3 linked regions of the Homo sapiens genome follow. The protein of the gene in region 1 purifies or fractionates together with the protein of each later gene. This does not show direct contact. Each region holds a gene or a part of one and is shown on either strand. Other genes may lie near its edges. The genes, in order: PHYH, PBLD and ABCD3.

Evidence for each region.
Region 2: the proteins of PHYH (region 1) and PBLD fractionate together in Homo sapiens (co-fractionation; one large-scale study listed by BioGRID). This does not show direct contact.
Region 3: the proteins of PHYH (region 1) and ABCD3 purify together in Homo sapiens (co-immunoprecipitation; one large-scale study listed by IntAct). This does not show direct contact.

What each region holds. Positions count from the first base shown.
Region 1 is NC_000010.11:13,289,944-13,293,673, reverse strand, and holds part of PHYH (phytanoyl-CoA dioxygenase, peroxisomal isoform a precursor), read left to right. Parts: intron 1-1,761; coding exon 1,762-1,843; coding exon of another isoform or gene 1,844-1,849; intron 1,850-3,730. UniProt on the Homo sapiens protein: Catalyzes the 2-hydroxylation of not only racemic phytanoyl-CoA and the isomers of 3-methylhexadecanoyl-CoA, but also a variety of other mono-branched 3-methylacyl-CoA esters (with a chain length of at least seven carbon atoms) and straight-chain acyl-CoA esters (with a chain length longer than four carbon atoms).
Region 2 is NC_000010.11:68,298,429-68,301,928, forward strand, and holds part of PBLD (phenazine biosynthesis-like domain-containing protein), read right to left. Parts: intron 1-3,500.
Region 3 is NC_000001.11:94,515,761-94,519,378, forward strand, and holds the end of ABCD3 (ATP-binding cassette sub-family D member 3), read left to right. Parts: intron 1-1,291; coding exon 1,292-1,369; 3' UTR 1,370-2,903; downstream 2,904-3,618. UniProt on the Homo sapiens protein: Broad substrate specificity ATP-dependent transporter of the ATP-binding cassette (ABC) family that catalyzes the transport of long-chain fatty acids (LCFA)-CoA, dicarboxylic acids-CoA, long-branched-chain fatty acids-CoA and bile acids from the cytosol to the peroxisome lumen for beta-oxydation.

The sequences.
Region 1 (3,730 bases):
GCAACATAGTGAGACCATTGTCTATATTGGAAAAAAAGAAAAAAACAAAGATTGAATAAGAGAAGTGAGCTAACTGCCGGGCGCGGTGGCTCATGCCTGTAATCCCAGCACTTTGGGAGGCCGAGGTGGGCAGATCACGAGGTCAGAAGTTTGAGACCAGCCTGAGACACATGGTGAAACCCAGTCTCTACTAAAAATACAAAAATTAGCTGGGCATGGTGGCGGGCGCCTGTAATCCCAACTACTCAGTAGGCTGAGGCAGGAGAATCGCTTAAACCCGGGAGGCAGAGGTTGCAGTGAGCCGAGATCATGTCATTGCACCTAGCCTGGGCAACAGAGCGAGACTCCATCTCAAAAAAAACAAAAACAAAAACAAAAAACAAAAAACAAGTGAGCTAACTAAGGGTAGGGAAATCATTGGCTAAATAACAGTACAAGTTATGTCAGAAGTTGTGAGGATGGCTCTTGAATGGCTGGCATTTAGAAAATCCCAGCCTAGATGAATACAAAAAAATACCAGGCTTTATAAAAAGCAAGTGTGTGCCTGACTGCTAGGCTTTTAATAACCTTTCCAGGGTTTCATACTCAAATTGCCAATATTCCTTATACACAAGAGATCAAAAAGTGAGGAAGCAGTAGAAGGTGGCTTATTTTTTGGAGTCTTTTTTTTGCAGAATCAAAATTTGAATATCATGGGTTGTTTTATTTTCTTCTTCTTCTTCTTTTTTTTTTTTTTTTTTGAGACAGAGTCTCACTCTTGTTGCCCAGGCTGGACTGCAGTGGTATGATCTCAGCTCACTGCAACCTCTGCCTCCTGGGTTCAAGTGATTCTCCTGCCTCAGCTTCCCAAGTAGCTGGGATTACCGACGTGTGCCACCATGCCCGGCGAATTTTTGTATTTTTAGTAGAGATATGGTTTTGCCATGTTGGCCAAGCTGGTTTTGAACTCCTGACCTCAAGTGATCCGCCCGCCTCGGCCACCCAAAGTGCTAGGATTACAGGTGTGCGCTAACGCACCCGACCTCAGTGTTGAGCCCTTTCTGCTTTTTCCCTCTCCGTTGCTGGGTTCTGTACACAAGGTAGCGGCAGCCCAGCTCCCAGGCCCCACGACTAAACCAGCTCTCCCTGTCACGGTTCCCCATGTTAGCCTTTTCTTCATAATGCAGTGTCCCTCGGCCACTCTGACCCATGTCATTACTGGGTTAACATTTTTCATCTAACTCCTGGGACCTGCTTTGCTTGTTCACTCTTGCTTCCCCATTTCCCGTCACCTCCTGGTTCCCAGATCTCAGTAATGAGTTGTCAAGTGCCAAGCGTCCCCGATTGTCAAATGTCCTCCAAGCCACCATTCTGCTTTCTTCCGGGCTATTCATGACAGCTGTGAATTGTATGGGACTCTTCGTATGCAGAGGCTCCAATGAGGAAGAGGAAACTGCCCTCCCACTGAGCAACCTTCTGTTGCTTGGGTTGACAAGAAAGCTATATTAATATCTCATCGGAACTCCTATGTTTCTTGTAGAGAAAAAATGGTTTCATTCCCAGCTAGCTCAGAAAAAGCCCATTTCATTCCGTGTTATAGATTTAGAATGATTTCCAATGGCTGGGTTTTTCATGCTTTGTTTGCAATGTTGTGAAATACCGCTTGGTTCTTAAACTATTGCCTTCTTGGTTCTTGTGTGGATAGCTACTGTACTTTGTACCAGTTGTCAATACTTCTGATTTCCCACAAGGTTTGTTTTTGTTTTTTTTTTGCTTTCTTAGATTCTGAAATATGTGGAGTGCTTCACTGGACCTAATATTATGGCCATGCACACAATGTTGATAAACAAACCTCCAGATTCTGGTAATTGTAAGGGAGAAGAAAAAAAAATGGTTTCATTAAAATGTGTAAGGTTGGCTGGGTGCAGTAACTCATGCCTGTAATCCCAGCATTTTAGGAGACCAAGGGAGGAAGATCTCTGAGGCCAGGAGTTTGAGAGTGGCCTGGGCAACATAGTGAGGCTCTGTCTCTAAAAATAAAATTTAAAAATATCCAGGCATGGTGGTATGCACTTGTAGTCCCTGCTATTGGAAGGCTGAGGTGGGAGGATCACTTGAGCCCAGGAGTTGAAGGCTGCAGTGAACCTATAATGGCATGCTCTCCAGCCTGCGTGACACAGTGAGACCCTATCTCTACATAATAAATAAAACAAAACAAAACAAAATAATAAAATAGCTGATGTCTAACTGTAATCATGTGTACAACTGTCAAACTTTGGATAAGGAAGTCTTAAAATAACTTACACTATAACAACAGTGAAATGTGGTAATTATTTCAGATATTAACTGTAGGACTGTTGCTGAATTTTCAGATGACTGGCTCCCCAAAAATGCAGTTTAACCGACATAACTGTTCATATATCAAAGGTTCCTGCCATTCGACGTCTCTAAGCTTGATCAGCTCTTTTTAGCTGTGATAGTGTGGATTCTTGCATTCCTGATAGGAAGACATTATTATTACTAACACAATTAAAATTGTTACTATGAGTCACAAACTATAGTGGTCTTTTTTTTTTTTTTTTTTTTTTTTGAGATGGAGTTTTGCTCTTGTTGCCCAGGCTGGAGTGCGATAGCGCGATCTTGGCTCACTGCAACCCCCACCTCCCAGGTTCAAACAATTCCTGATTCTCCTGCCTCAGTCTCCCAAGTAACTGGGATTACAGGCATGTGCCACCAAGCCTGGCTAATTTTTGTACTTTTAGTAGAGACAGGGTTTCGCCATGTTGGTCAGGCTGGTCTCGAACTCCTGACTTCAGATGATCCACCTGCCTTGGCCTCCCAAAGTGCTGGGATTACAGGTGTGAGCCACCGCGCCCAGCCTATAGTTGTCTTTAAAATGTCTTGTGCTTGCTAAAATGTAGAATCTAAGACCTCATTGGCAGACAGACTGATTGAGAAATATAACCCAGGTTTCTGTATTTTAATAACCTTCCTCAAGCTGGGCGTGGATGTGCACCTGTGGTCCCAACTACTCAGGAGGCTGCGGGGGGAGGATCGCTGGAGCCCAGGAGTTCAAGTCCAGAGATTGTAGTGCAGATCACTTGGACTACACTGGGAAATTCCTCTGTGCCTGCAGTAAAAATCAGCCATGAGAGAGTCCCCCTATCCTTTCTGCCTTTTCTTCCTTCTGATCTGCAGGAGGGGTTTATGTGATAGAAGGCAGCTTAGCATTACCAGGTCTCTCCCTCCTTGAGGAGAGCAGGTGTTCGGGAGCCACACTCAGGGAGCAAACCAGGGGAAAATGTCAGTGTGGTCATGGGCACTCCGACTGGACATGGAATGACTATAGTTGTGGGGGGTGAGGACCTCTTAGATAACTTTTTTTATTTTTATTTTTTTTGAAATGGAGTCTTGCTCTGTTGCCCAGGCTGGAGTGCAGTGGCTCAATCTCGGCTTACTGCAACCTCTGCCTCTGGGGTTTGAGTGATTCTCCTGCCTCATCCTCCTGAATAGCTGGGATTACAGGTGCCCACCACCACACCCAGCTAATTTTTTTTTTTTTTTTTTTTTTTTTTTTTTGGTATTTTTAGTAGAGACAGGGTTTCACCATGTTGGTCAGGCTGGTCTCGAACTCCTGACCTCAGGCAATCTACCCGGCTCAGCCTCCCAAAGTGCTGGGATTACCGGCGTGAGCCACCGTGCCCGTCCTGTTTTGTGTGTTTTTTTTTCTTTTTCTTTTCTTTTTTTTTTT
Region 2 (3,500 bases), about 55 Mb from region 1:
CCAGCCTGTGCAACATAGCGAGAACCTGACTCTAAAAAAATTTTTTTTTACACAGTAACAACTGGTGAATCTAGAGAAAGGGAATATGCATGTTCATCATACCATTCTTGAAACTTTTCTGTAGGTTTTTAATTTTTCAAAATAAAATATTTAGAAAAATTATGTGGGTTTGAAAACAGAATTGAATTTCTATCCTGTGTGAGCTCCTAGCAGCAGTGTAAAAGTGGGCAAGTCATTTAATCTTATGGCCTCAGTTTCCACACCTTTAAGATGGGAATAATAGCACTTAAGTCAAGGTTTATTGTGAAGATATATACATGCATACGAATACACACACACACACACACACACACACACACACACACATTCCTCTTAACTCAAGAAAAAAGTGGACCCAGCTGGGCGTGGTGGCTCACACCTGTAATCCCAGCACCTTAGGAGGCTGAGGCAGGTGGATCACGAGGTCAGGAGTTTGAGACCAGCGTAGCCAATATGGAGAAACTCCATCTCTACTAAAAATACAAAAAAATTAGCCGAGAGTGGTGGCACGCGCCTGTAATCCCAGCTACTCGGGAAACTGAGGCAGGCGAGTTGCTTGAACCTGGGAGGCAGAGGTGGCAGTGAGCCAAGATCGCGCCACTGCACTCCAGCCTGGGTGACAGAGTGAGAGTCCGTCTCAAAAAAAAAAAAAAAAAAAAAAGTGGACCCGAAGTATGTTTTCCTTTTGAGAAGAAAAATCCATTTTTAATCAATAAAATGCTTACTAGTTAGATTTTGAATTTTAAAGAAGTTTCAAGAAAACACATTTTTATTTTGGCCAAATTTATTGCTCTTGATCTCCTGAAACTCTTTCTAACGGAAATCTACTAGTTAGATTTTGAATTTTAAAGAAATTTCAAGACAAATGCATTTTTGTTTTGGCCAAATTTATTGCTCTTGATCTCCTGAAACCCAGAAGAATTATAATTTTATATTAATAAATTCATAATTCACTTCTCTGAGTTATCCAAATTAAACACTCTTGTCTTTGATTCAAAATCTTTTGAAACATGTTCCATATAATTATATAGGGCATAAAAGTGTGATTATTGTGAAAAATCAGTCATGATTTTAAAACTACCGGCTGATATAAAAATCTTAGCAGGGGCCAGGTGTGGCAGCTTATGCCTGTAATCCCAGCACTTTAGGAGGGCGAGGCGGGTAGATCACCTGAGGTCAGGAGTTCGAGACCAGCCTGGCCAACATGGCAAAACCCCATCACTACTAAAAATACAAAAATTAGCCAGGAGTGGTGGTGCGCGCCTGTAATCCCAGCTACTCAGGAGGTTGAGCAGTAGTCACTTGAACCCGGGAGGCAGAGGTTGCAGTGAGCCGAGATCATGCCATTGCACTCCAGCCTGGGTGACAGAGCAAGACTCCATCTCAAAAATAAATAAATAAATAAATCATGGCAGGAAACATAATAAGCTTTTTTTTTTTTGAGACAGAGTCTCGCTCTGTCACCCTGGCTAGAGTGCAGTGGCACTGTCTCAGCTCACTGCGATCTATGCCTCTTGGGTTCAAGCGATTCTCTCATCTCAGCCTCCTGAGTACCTGGGACTACAGGTGCAGACCACCATGCCCAGCTAATTTTTTGTATTTTAGTAGAGATGGAGTTTCACCATGTTGCCTAGGCTGGTCTGGAACTCCTGAGCTCAGGCAATGCGCCCATATTGGCCTCCCAAAGTGCTAGAACTACAGGCATGATCCTCTACGCCCCGGCTTACCCAGAGAGAGACTGAAAGAAACAGAAAGAGAGAGAGAAAGAGATAACTCATCCCAGTGCCCAACACGTAGTAGGTACTTGATACATGTTAGCTTTTTATTTGAGTGGCTCAAAGTCATGCTTTAACTAGCCACACTACACTGCCTGCCCATCACAAAGACAAACGATTATTAACCCTGTAACATGCTACAGACAGGGAAAACAAACGTCTAGCAGAGAAAATGGACCCCTGCAAGGTTTCTAAGACGGAACAGCAATAAATAAATTAATGAGTACTGTGCTGAGCCAGGAGCACGGCAACACAACTAAGGGGATTTGTTAGAAATGCAGAGTCCGAGGCCCCCTGTCTTGGGCCTCCGACATTCTGAATCAGAATCTCCATTTTCACAAGCTCCCCAGGTGATCGTGTGCACATTAAAGTTTGAGAAACCCTTGTGTATAAGCCATGGTTGTGTTCAAGGGACTTAGCATCTAGGTGGGGAGTCAAGACAGCCACAGACAGCAACTGTGAACAATACCAGAGAAAATGTCATTGAGACACATAGATTTTGACAATAAATACTCTAAAACTTTAAAGATGAGGTCTTGTGGTGAACCTAGAAAAGAGGGGAGATTTCGGTGATTTGGACAGAAAAGTGTGTGCAAAGAGCTTTGTATTAGGACAGCTTCTTAGGCAAGTTGCTTGATCTCACTTCTGTTTTTTTGTTTTGTTCTGTTTTTTTGAGACGGAATCTCGCTCTGTCACCCAGGCTGGAGTGCAGTGGTGCGATCTGGCTCACTGCAACCTCTGCCTCCCAGGTTCAAGTGATTCTCCTGCCTCAGCGTCCTGAGTAGCTGGGATTACAAGTGTGTGCCACCATACCCGGCTGATTTTTGTATTTTATTAGAGATGAGGTTTCACCATGTTGGCCAGACTGGTCTCAAACTCCTGACCTCAGGTGATCCACCCACCTCGGCCTCCCAAAGTGCTGAGATTACAGGCATGAGCCACCGCACCCGCCCATTCTCTTGTTAAATCAGAGATTAAACTTTAACATAATGGACACTCTAGAATTCTAGAAGTAGGATGGTGAAAATGCAGTGGGATGAGTACCTGTCCCACCTGTGGGCACCTGTGGGCCTGGATAAGTGAGAAATCCCACCTAAGAAGAGGAGTAGAGGGGGCCACTGGAAAGTCCCAGCCAACAAGACAACAATGTTAACAATTGAACTCAAGCACTCTCCATGGCCTGTTGAATGTTTTCTGTGGAAACTGGTCCAGATGCACATGCACACAACACCTGATAGAAACTGGGAGGTATTTAAGCCCCTTAGTGCAGAGTCTGCAATCACAAGTCTCAGTGGTAATCGAAAGGTGATCAAGAAAAGCCTTTGCTGGCCTTCCTGGACTTGCCTCCTTGCTTGCAGAAACCTAAAGTGCCTGTCAGTCCTTCCTCTATATGATCTGGCGAAACTTCCTATCTTCGTCCTTCCTTTCTTTCTCTATAGCTCCCTGTGACCTTTAGGATAAGTCTTTAAAAGTATTAAAACATCCTACATTGTAGCCAAGCTCACCATCTATTGGTAATAGATTTCTTTGCAAATGGGCCCTTTCACACATTAGCTAGGACGCAAAGTCCACTGCCCACCAGCTCTTTAATCCTCTCTACCTTGGTATACTGCATTTCTTGCAATTTGAATTTATATAACTGTAACTTCTATTTCAGGACACTAAAAAATGCACCTGCTATTTGCC
Region 3 (3,618 bases), on another chromosome or scaffold:
TGTGAAATGCTCAAAACCTGAAAGTAAACCCAGTTTAATTCTCTTTATTTTCTTTCCTCCTCCCTCCCTCCCTCCCTTCCTTTCTTCCTTCCTTTCTTTTCTTCTTTCCTTTCTGTCTTTCCCCCTTCCCTCTTTCCTTTCTTCTCTTCTTTCCTTCTTTTCCTTCCTAAATGATATAGAAATTTTAGGTAAAAGCAAGGATTTGAGAAAAATTGGAATAATGGTAAAGGTGCCTTGTTCCACAAAATACATACCTGATTAAGGACCTTTTTTTGCCAGATACTGAGCTAAGTGTCATGAGGGATGCAAATTAATTACAGTTTTTACCTTCAAGAACTTTAGGATGTAGATGATAGTCTACAAGTGATAAAATGAAGAGCATAGGATTTGAAGTCAGAGAGCCTGGGTTCAGGCACCAAAGTTTCTAGCCTCAGTTGCTTCCTTTGTATAATGAAGTTATTGAGCCTTACCTTCCTATCTCTTAGATTACCATGAAAATTAGACAGGTAGCCTATATGAAAGTACTTAATAAAATTCAGTGAAATTCTATATAACTGTGTGACTTTTAAAGATAGCTTTTATTATTTTATGGCATATTATAACTTGTCAATTTTTCATGAACTGAGCAGGAAATTGAATAACTAGAAATCAAAGGCATTTAAAATATAGCCAAGCCTTTATGTTTTCTCGGAAGTTCATAAGTATTATAGCCATAGGACATTGAGAGGAATTGAGAGCATTTGGGTTTCACCCTTCCTCTTCTTTTGGAGGTATAGACAAGTAGCAAAATAATCATCACGCCAGTGATCATGTGAAGGAGGGGAACACAACTAGAATGTGAGGGGCCAGGATAGCTAAGAAATAGTAATACAGAAAATGGAAACTCAGAAAGCTTTCTGAAAATAAGCCACTAAATAAAAACAGAAGGCTTTGTAACTGCTGTTGTGTCTTCAGAGGTTAGGATATATCGGCAGTTTTTATAGCTCTTTTTCCCCTCTACTAAATTAAAAACAAATAAAAAGCCTTAAGCTGGAGATTTCAAGCTGATTAGGAAATCAGGCTACAGGAAACAATACTGACTGACCTATGGAACAGTCTTGCATTTAGCACAGTTTAACCTACTGGTAGCTGAGATCCTTGGTCATGGAGTTACGGAAGCATTCTGATTTGTGGGATGCTTATAGATTTAGCTCCCTTAAAATAATGAGGAAGTCTGTATTTTACTTTTCATAAAAGACAGTACTATATTCACTCTTAGTTACTGACTTTTTTTCCCCCTTCTTTCCCATAGTACTACCTGCATATGGATGGCAGAGGCAACTATGAATTCAAACAGATAACAGAAGATACAGTTGAGTTTGGCTCTTAGAGAAATCTGGAGAACTATACCTGCTTCAGTGAAATAATTACAGAATATACTTAGAAAGGCAAAGTACATTGTAAAATAAAGTTGAGCTTAGTTTTTTTTAAAAAAAAAAACAAAGCAACAAATTAACTAGATACAGAATAATGGAGAACAAGTTGTTAAAACATTTAATATTATATAGGATATTGCTAATTGTGTATATGTTGGTTTAATTAATAATATGTACTAAGAATGTCCTTATTCTTGTGGTTAAAAACCTGCCTAAATTAAATTGGGCTTCAATCACTGTAACCTGATTCATCCTGGGATGTAAACCATTCGAAGTCAGCTAATTGGACTTTTATGGCTCTATCTTTTCCTTCAGTGAAGAACCCTATTTAAAACTGGGTCATCATTTGTCCTGTTCTAGCAAGATAGTCTTCAGTTTCATTTTCCTGTGCCCTGTGGTAGTTGGAAACAAATCATAATGTATTATTTAAATGTTTAACATCATTGCATAACAGCGTTTATTATACAGTGGCAGATTTCTTTAGCTGCCACAGTAATACTCATTCCTTGTGTGTGTCTTGGAGTGCATTTGACTCCAGGAAAAGCCATTTTGGTTTTCCTTAACTAAATGATAAATGTACCCCTCTCAGTCTGCAGTATTGAGTTGTTTAAAGTATATGTGCAGTCTTGCTTACAAGGAGGGGTTACCATGTATCACACCTAATCTTCCCAATGTTTGGGATATTAAAACACAAAGTCCTTAACATGCCAGGCTCAAGGTCTTATAAGAGTTCTAGATTTTTAAGAGAATTAGACAAATTTGTGTGTGTTAGAAGCCCATTCATTAGAAGTGTGGTGGTTATTTGGTATTAAACTCCAAATGAGCCATAGGAAGGCACTACATGAAATAATGCACTGAGTATGCAATGCTATCACTGTCTTTGACTGTGATTTTATGTTTAAAAAGTATGTTCTAAAATTATTATATATACATGGGTGAATTATGTTTCCGAGGCACTGTTTTATCTCTGTGAATCTTGAATAACTTTTTTATATTTGGGTTATGATGTCAAACGATCCTAAGCGAAGATGATTTCAGTTCATCAAATCATCATTAATGACTTTATGTATTATTTGCACAGGGAGAATTGAAACTGAGTATAATCAATAAGCTAGATACGAAATCAGTTTCTCAAACTGAGCTTCAGAAAGGGGCATTTTGTACTCTTGTTTTTGCATAACTGGTTTTGTTTTTTTGCAGAATTAACTATAACAATCACTGGCTACCGAAGTAAACTGATGTACTGAATTCCATAATACATAACATTCAATTTTTACCACTTCTGTTTAGCGAACTTGTATACTTATTTTCTGTTCAGATTAAAAAAAAAAAAAAAAAACTCAGATATCCTATACAACCTTTGCTTGTTCTTTTTATTCTGGTATCTAAATACTGAGAAGTTCATTTATAATTCAGCCTTGACTTGAAAACATAGATAGTTTAATCTTGACTTGAAAAACACAAAAATAAATTCAGAAAATGCTTTTAGCACAGTGTCTCTTTTTTAAAGTTTTGCCAAGTGTGGTTTTTAATTGAATGAATTTCTCTTTTAGAAAAGTTCAGTAAAATCTGTGTACCTGACAAATGCTACCAAACAGCCAGGAGACCTTAAAAGATACTATTCGTCTTGGAAAAGATTTTAAGGCATGGGAAAGTTTCAGATTTTCAGATTTCTGGGTTACCTTAAACCTACTCGTAGAAGTATTCTCCTAGCTGCCTTATAATTGCTTTTGTTATGATTCTTGCCATCAAAACAACAACAACAACAATTTGGGCTTTTTTTCTTAATTATTTTCTTTTTTATGTAACAAATATTACAGTGCCTCACCATTTGAGGCACAGAGGAAGATCCTTCTGGAGAATCACATTAACATAATAGTGGTTCTTCGAAGACCCACAGTAAAGAAATCCATTGGTTCAAAAACATGATTGACCACGGAACATCTTTTTCTACATAATTCCTATTAACACCTTCCAGAAACTGCAGTGGGAAATGGTAGTTTAATCCGAAGAATAAACCAAAGAATAAGAACTTTCATCCATGAGCACCACGCTGCATGCCAAGACATATCACCGTGTTCTCATAATAAGTTTTTACTTTTTATATAATGAGAAAATAAGTATGAAACAGCAATGGTAGTTTGTTTTGCATTAATAGAATAAAATATATCTAGCATTTGTCTCTTTCTCCCCTTTCTGAATG